2 separate regions of the Homo sapiens genome follow, and region 2 is linked to region 1. The links come from fine-mapping of genetic effects on gene expression. Tissue or cell type: cerebellum. Region 1 holds a variant in brackets; the other region holds the start of a gene. All regions are shown on one strand. Distances are from middle to middle.

The links. PIP is the estimated chance that this variant, and not a neighbour inherited with it, causes the effect.
Region 2: CHRM5 starts here. The variant in region 1 is the best candidate, but not a certain one, in a credible set for the expression of CHRM5 in cerebellum (GTEx, PIP 0.86).

What each region holds. Positions count from the first base shown.
Region 1 is chr15:33,990,012-33,994,245 of GRCh38, forward strand. All of the region lies in intron 2 of AVEN (apoptosis and caspase activation inhibitor), which reads right to left. The region is part of intron 1 of CHRM5 (cholinergic receptor muscarinic 5); the gene reads left to right. Among named protein-coding and RNA genes, the nearest start is that of CHRM5, 24 kb to the left of the region's middle. The variant G/A (reference allele first, on the strand shown) is at 2,098.
Region 2 is chr15:33,966,114-33,970,347 of GRCh38, forward strand. CHRM5 (cholinergic receptor muscarinic 5) reads left to right here and starts at 2,384. Exons shown (of 3, transcript NM_012125.4): 1 at 2,384-3,037. The region is part of intron 2 of AVEN (apoptosis and caspase activation inhibitor); the gene reads right to left.

The DNA.
Region 1 (4,234 bases):
GGCCAACATGGTGAAACCCCGTCTCTACTAAAAATACACAAAATTAGCCGGGCGTGGTGGTGGGCGCCTATAATCCCAGCTACTCAGGAGGCTGAGGCAGGAGAATCACTTGAACCTGGGAGGCAGAGGTTGCAGTGAGCCGAGATTGCATCGTTGCAATCCAGACTGGGCAACAGGGTGAGACTCCGTCTCAAAAAAAAACAAAACAAAACAAAAAAAACTTAGCCAGGCGTTGAGGTGCGTGCCTATAGTCCCAGCTACTCAGGAGGCTAAGGCAGGAGAATCGCTAGAACCTGGGAGGCAGAGGCTGCAGTGAGCCGAGATCACGCCACTGCCCTCCAGCATGGGCGACAGAGTGAGACCCTGTCTGAAAAAAAAAAGAAAAGAAAAGAATGTAGTACCCAGATGATTTGATGATGCAGCCAGTTGTCTAACTGAAGAGTAACTGGAATATAAGTCATTTGATAACCAGAAGAGTATCTGGAATACAACTTAAACTCAGAAAAGATTCACTAACGTTCTCTCATTAAGCCATGTCCAGTATAACTAGCTTAAATTATCTAATAATAAACATTTAAAAATAAACAGTCCTTCATGTGAACTTGAAAGTACAGTCTCTGCTAGCGATCCTATGGCTCGGCTCTGGGGGCCTGGGACCGGAAAGATAACCACAGCAGCCAAAAATGGTGATAGTGAAAACAATGGCTGCTCTGGGGACCGAAACCTACCACCATCAAATCAAGTATCATTTTGATGACTTTAATTTGCCGTAAGACGAATTTTTAAAAGGAACAGACTAAATTGGATGAAAGCTGGATACCTCTGGAAATAACAAAATTCAACAGGTTAAATTACCTAACAACAGATTTTAATATAATAGAAGCACTGAACAAATCAAAGGCAGAACTAATGAAAATACAGATAAAACTAAAATCAGAAGATTTTTCCAAACAAACCTCCCTCTGATTAGTACAAAATGTCCCTCTGGCAACTGATGAGTAGAAAAAAATGATGTAAAACCAGATCCATTCATATGAAAGGCTTCCCAATGGATGCAACTCCTGATGACATAATTATTTTATGTCTAATCTTTTAAAGATTAGAAGATAAAGGACAAGCACTAAATATTCAAATGAGAAAAACATTACACAAAGCATTTAAGCAATCAACACGTGCAGTGTTTGACGGTATTAAATCCAATAAAAAGTTTATAGAGACCCTGGCCCTGAACCCTGGTATAAAAATACAGACCTTCTAACACTTTTCAAGGAGGATTATTTTGCAAAACAAGAATGAAGCAAAACAAAGTATAAACTAAATTCAGAGCTAAGCAAGAGCAAGAAGAAAAATGGAAGTGCTGCAAAAGATAAATGCTTGAGAGGATGGATACCCAATTTTCCATGATGTGATTATTATGCATGGCATACCTGTACCAAAATATCTCATATACCCAGTAAATATATATATCTACTACGGACCCACAAAAATAAACTTTAAAAAAAAAAAAACAGAAGTGCTGAGGATGCTCAAATGAAATGTCTAGATTGAATGTTTGCTGAAATTTTGGGATGACTTAGATAATGTGACCTGTAGAAAGCACCCACATATCCTTTTCTCAAATCATGGGGAAATAAAATGGATACACTTTATCAGTAGAGCAAAAGAGAGATTAATTCTATGTAAGAAAAAAGCTAAAGAAACACTAAATAAAGCAGAAGCAGCCAGCAATTGTAACCTATGACTAAGAAACAAGGAAGAGATGTGGAAATTACTAGACAGAAAGGTAGAAAAAGAAACACTGAAAAAAACTCATGCAAAATCACCAAGAATCTCTAAACAAATGAGAATCAAAAGGTCATAGATTTAAAGGAAAAAGAAAGGGAAATAAAGCTGCCTAGGCTGGATCTGCTAAAGGAAATGCACAACTTCAGGGCAGGAAAATGATAGTTCAGGATGATGAAAATGATGCAGCTGGACCAGCAAAAACAAAGAATTGCTTCAAAACAACAGAAAACACAAAATGGCGCTGGAGACTAGCAGTTTAGCACACAAATTCTGCTCTTATCTTTTGAAGGTTTTTAAAAAGAAAATCAGGCC[G/A]GGCGCGATGGTTCACGCCTGTAATCCCAGCACTCTGGGAGGCCAAGGCAGGGGGATCACGAAGTCAGAAGATTTGAGACCATCCTGGCTAACAAGGTGAAACCCCGTCTCTACTAAAAAAATACAAAACAGTTAGCTGGGCGTGGTGGCGGGCACCTGTAGTCCCAGCTACTCGGGAGGCTGAGGGAGGAGAATGGCGTCAGCCCGGGGGGCGGAGCTTGCAGTGAGCCGAGATTGCGCCACTGCACTCCAGCCTGCGCGACAGATCAGGACTCCGTCTCAAAAAAAAAGAAAAAAGAAAATCAAATTAGGCCCAATATTCAATATTCAGCTACAAGGAAAAGTTTTTTTGTTATCGGAGTTTTCCTTGTTTTTATTTTTTTGGTTATCCAATTGAAAATTTTTTTAGCCCTGTCAGCCAGAACAAATTTTTTAATTTATAGTTCTGTTTGTGTTATTTCAGATGTTTTAAATATCAAAGGGAAGAATCTTCTTCTACTATATTGCCTTTGTAATATGAGACTATATTGGCACAAACTATATACCATACAAGAAGAGGGAAAAAAATGAGCTGAATCAATGAGGACAAATAAAACTGTCTTGTTGCCTCATGGAAAGAAAAGGTTCGAGGTTTAATTTAAAAGTACAGGCTGCTAGAGTAATATCCTTTCTTTTCCCTTCAGTCTAATTGTTGGCACAAGGAACAGAGGAGGGAAGAAATTCCAATGTCATTACAATTAAAATTTCCTACCCAAAATAGCTTTTCATAAAATTAAATTGAAGAAAATATATAATAGTTTTAAGCAAAAATATGCACAGACAACAACTATACTGACCAAACTGCAGTCTGGTTATTTCGTTTTTATTTGTATCTCTAAAAATAGTGTTTACAGACTTGCACATAATATTTTCCCCACGTTTTCTTCAATATTGATCCAGTGCATTCTGCTCACACTGTTAAACATTTTTCTAACTCTGGCTATCTGTGACATCTTGAAAGGAACAGACAATGCATATTGCATGAATTCAATGATTTGACTTTTGGGGAAAAAAAATGAAGGGCAGAAGAAATTTCTCATAGATCTTACTTTTTACGTTTGAAGGTAAGAGTGGGGTGCCATTTTCAAAGCTCTTGAAACGTAACTTAGAACTGCCAAGAATACTGTTCAAAAAGAAAAGCCAAAGGCATGATTATCTCTTTCAGAGACTAACAGAAAGAGTTCTACAAAGACACCTAAAGACTCACAATCTTACCAGAAAAAGTATGACTTTGAACAACCGTCCCCTTTCCCATATCCACCACTAATAAAAATGAGAGTGTCACTGTCAGTGGTCAGAAACAAACAGAGCAGGCAATGCCCGTGTGGCACAAGTGGAAGGAGGCAGGCTGGAAAGGGCTGCCTCTCCAAAAATGGTTCCCACCTCTATGGTGGTAACAGAAATTTTACCATTAGAAATCCACTTTTAAAGAGTTTTATTCCTTTTATAAAGAGATCTGTAAAATAAAAAATTGATAATACATATGAGCTTATAGAATAATTATTAAACCAACATAAATAACAATCATCCAGGCCAGGAAATAGAATACTGCCAACACCACACCTGCTACCGGGCCCTCCTCAATCATTACACCTCATCTCCCCACTAGAGGTGACCGCAATCATGATATCTGGAATAATCATTTCCTTGATTGTCACTTTAGTATTTAAATATACATCCTTAAAAAATAGGGTTTTTTTTTCCTGTGTTTGAACTTTATATAATAGAATCATACTAACGAATTCTGTGGGCATGTTTCTTTTACTTCATGCTATGTTGAAAAGATTCATCCACTTATTTAAGTATTCATTCCACTATTAATGAATATTTGCGTTGCTTCCATCTGAGGCTCTTCTGAACATACAGCTGTGAACATTTGGGCACACACGTGCTGGAGTTTCTCTAGAACAGGGGGTCCCCCACCCCCAGACCATGGATCAGTACCGGTCTGTGGCTTGTTAGGAACCGGGCTGCATAGCAGGAGGTGAGTGGTGGGCAAGTGAGCAGATTCTTCTCTATTTACAGCCACTCCCTACTGCTTGCATTAGTGCCTGAGCGCCACCTCCTGTCAGATCAGCAGCAGCATTCGATTCTCATA
Region 2 (4,234 bases), 24 kb before region 1:
CTCATAATCTATTATTCCAGTTCCCTCTATAACCACTTTTTCACCCACCCTACAAAGTTCTCCAGCAGAACCTGCATATTTGCAAAGTGTTCTCCTATGTTGACATTGTATTATAAATGACTGAGAAAAATTTCAGAGACAACTTGGAAAGAGAATGGAAGCATTTTTGCTCACCTTTTCCCATTCAGCTTATCTGTATTAAATGGTGATAATCAGTAACTATTTACTAAGCTTTCAAAAAGTGATTGGCACATATAGTCCTTATTCAGCAAGATTTAAAGGACAAGGTATAATTTGAGAACATAAAGTGTAACACAAAGCTCCCAAATGTTCATGCCATAACATGACGTATGACAAGAGATACTCAAGAGTGAGCACCTTGGGAGAGAAGTATTCTATTGCCCTCCATAAAAAATGGGAGCACGGTCCTCAGCAGTGGCTTTGAGCTTAGATGGAAACAGAAAATTATAATTTCCATCTACACCCCTTTAATGGCTCCCCATATTCACCACCCCCATTCTCTTTCATCCAGCCAATTTGAAAGATGAGATAAGAGTGAGAAGAGACAGAGAACCTGAATGAGAATGAATTTCGACAGGTGAGGGTGTGGCACACAAGTTATTTTCAGGACCTCATGCTATTGTATTCTTGGAAAAGTTAAGTGGACAGCCAAATGTTATGCTTTACCAGAAAGGAGCTAGGAGTTCAAACTTCATAGAAAAATTAAAATCCATTGGGAAGAAACCTTGACATTAATGAAAAACATATATAATATTATAGTCATCGATCCTCATAAACACAATGGCCCCATTTGATAGATTTTTACTTCTCTCATTTTGGATCTCCACTGAACTCTAAGTCACATTCAATCATTGAAATGGCTTAATAATCAGTGGCTTAAAACTTGGGGTATTTATTATAGAAGTGACCAGTATATAATGACCAATCATTACCATATGAAATTACAATCCTTTTCAGTATCATGCAATGTTAAGTGGGAAAAGTTCAAGAAAATATTCTAAAGATATGTTCTCTTGCATAAATATTCCTATTACAAATGTGTGTCAAAGACCACTATAAAACTAAAATTCACTTCTTTCTCATACATGTTCATCTGTCAGTGTTTAAAATTCTATTGGCTAACAATTAAAGTGTATACTTTGTCTGGATTCTCACTCAGAAAAAACCTACATAAAGACATAGTTTCTGAGACACAAGGAATTTAAAATGAACTGGATATTATATGACTCCAGAGGATTATAGCCAATGTGTTAGGTGTGATAATGGCACAGGGTCATGTGAAAAAGTGTCCATACTTTAAAAATATACATACTAAAGTACAAATAGGTGAAATGAGATTTGCTTTAAAATATTTTAGCAAAGAATTGAATCTGACAATTGTTGAATCTTGGTAATGAGTTTCTGGAGGTTCATGTATTATTTTTGTATTATTTTTCAGAGTTTTGTGTAAGTTTGAAATGTTCCATAATAATTTTTTAAAATTTAAAAACATTATATTGTCTAGATACACTCATAAAGAACTCAGGCAGGGAAAAAACGTTTAAATTTAAAATTTAAATTTTAAACTGAAGTGCAGTTTTAAAAATTTGAATTTTAAATTTAAAAACTGAAGTGCAAAAATTATGAAATTGACATTTAAAAATCTATTCTTTTATACAGCTAATATGGATTTCATCTAACTTAAGGAAAAGCTTTAATGAAGACCCTGTTAAAAGTTTGTATCAAATGAGGACTTATAATGCTTTACTCCAAAGCAACAAAACGCATATGCCCAAAAGATGTATAAAAACAGGCATACATTTAGGAAAAAAAAAAAAGGCAGCCTTTTCTCTGCTACAAATATTTAAAACTCACAGTATACTCTTTCTATCTCAAAGACTTTTAAAAATTATTTTCCATCTTTAGGGAAAACCATATGAGAAAATAACTCAGCAACATGTCTGTGAATAATGCCTAGCAAAGCTTAAAAAAAAAAAAAAAAAAAAAAAAAAGCTTCTAGCCAAAAAGACTAACAGGAAAAAATGAACATTTTCAAAAGCATTTTGGAACCTTATTCCAGCTACCTCCATGCTAAGCCCTCTTTTTCCTCCCAAAATACGTCACTTAACTGTCTGTCAAATAACTCTTGCCCATTCTACCTGATCACACTCTGAAGCTGCAGCTTTTCCTGGATTCTCTTCTCAATGACAAGCTGTTCAAACAGAGAACACCTATCAAAACGAATATCATCATCTGCTCCTTTCTTTCTTCCTTTCAGGATATACTGCTGTCCAGCAGGGGAAGTAATTAATGAGTTTTTTATGTATGGCAGCGTCATCCCATCAGTTTGCTGTCTGGTTTGAATAGCTCCTATCAGCTCTTCATTCATGCCAAGTACGCTCACCGTCCAGAGACATGATAAAGCCGTACTTCCTTCTGGATTTTTACCTCACTATTCAAAAAACAGGGTACCAGAAGCATGGGTTACAAAAGCATGAGGAGGACAGAAGAAATGCCTTCATCTTCTACAGAAAGGAAGCTGATGGACTGAAAAGTTCGTATGGAGAAAGGAAAGCAAGAGTGCAAGAACATCCATGCTTCTAGTCCAGATAATGTTTTTTAAAGCAGCTTGATTTGGAAGCGTGTGTAATTCTGAAATACGAACAAGCAGAACTTTTCCAGGGGGTCAAATGCATATAGGAACAACCAGGATTTCTCATTGCTGAAGCATTCAATGAATCTTTAATAAGTTCTCAACACTCAGATTGTTTGTGATCAGATCAACTGCTGTTACCAGATAAAGGCAAAACTCACCCTTCTGGTTCTATAATCCTATCCAAATGGAGTCTTCATCTACCGCATACTATCCTAACTAATGCTACAGGATTATCAGGAATACAGATATAAAGACACTGCAAGAAATAAAACACTGGCAAAATAAAACATGAAAGGAAAGTAGAGAAGGCATTTTGGGTCTCGAAGCTTACTATTTCCAGCCAGAGTTCAAATTACTGAGCTTCAAACAAACCACTGCCAGGTAAGATTTAATTTTATAACCTTAATTTATATCTTGTCTACTGAAATTAAATCTGCTCGTGCTGTGAATGAGATAGTGGATTTGAATTTCTTGCAACCCTTCCTTAAGCTTTTGCAGATTTAAGCTGAGGTAAACGCTTGTTTTTACTTATGCTGCATAAACAAGTCACTCAGAACTAGATAATAAAGCATCCAAAACTCCCATTCATTTTTCATTGAATTTGTCTCATCTTTGTCTTTATTTTTATCCCAATTTTGTTTTATTTAATAGCTTGAAAAAAATGCATGAAGAGAGCCCTGAATGGTGCATAAGAGCCATTCACAGATAATGTTTACCAACAATATTCAAATGAACTTAGTTTCCCAGAGTACTTGATAAAACAAAGAAAAATTAATAAGCATTTTAAATATTTTTATTCATATAAAGGAACAAAAGCTCAATGACTGATTTCTATTGTTACTAAGAAAAAAAAGCTGTGATGTCATTTCATTCATACTAAAGAAAAATAATCTCTACTAAATCGAGGTATAACACTCTTGTAGGATAGGGCTAATTTATCCTAAAGATACTAGACATTTTTATAACAGACTAAATGAAGACATTTTTCTGATTCAACAAGAGGATAAAAAGATGAAAGATGTCTGGTACCTTAAAACCTCAAAAGCTTTGACTCAGGTCAGTGGTCCAAACTGTAAAATGCAAAGCACTAGTGAAGCCATCAAAGGATTTTAAAAGATACAGTGCCTTTAAGAAATTCCCTAGAAATCACTGCATAATGAGACTTCTAGAGTGACAATCTTATGTAAAAACAACAAAACGTTATCATTTAGCAGAAATCCCAACCACATTGGTTTTCATGAGTTTCATTGGAAAACTTAGGTCCAAAGCACCTTATCATAAAGAAGTCCTACAACAAATAATATTTATATTATCTTAGAAGAGAGGAGACAGGGAAACAAGAGCATATCACACCTAACTACGGAGATCTTGTGGTAATATACATAAAGTTATCAGAAGTAAGTATTCAATACTTGTCTAAAAGTAGTCAAATTAGAAATTCTCTTCCATTTCACTGAATTCTTTCCTTTTTTCAAATTTTAGTTAAGGGAGTAAATTATATGATCCCTTCAGGCTTTTCAAGACAGTCTATAAATAACCTTAAATATCATAAGTCTTTTACATCTGAAGTCATTACAG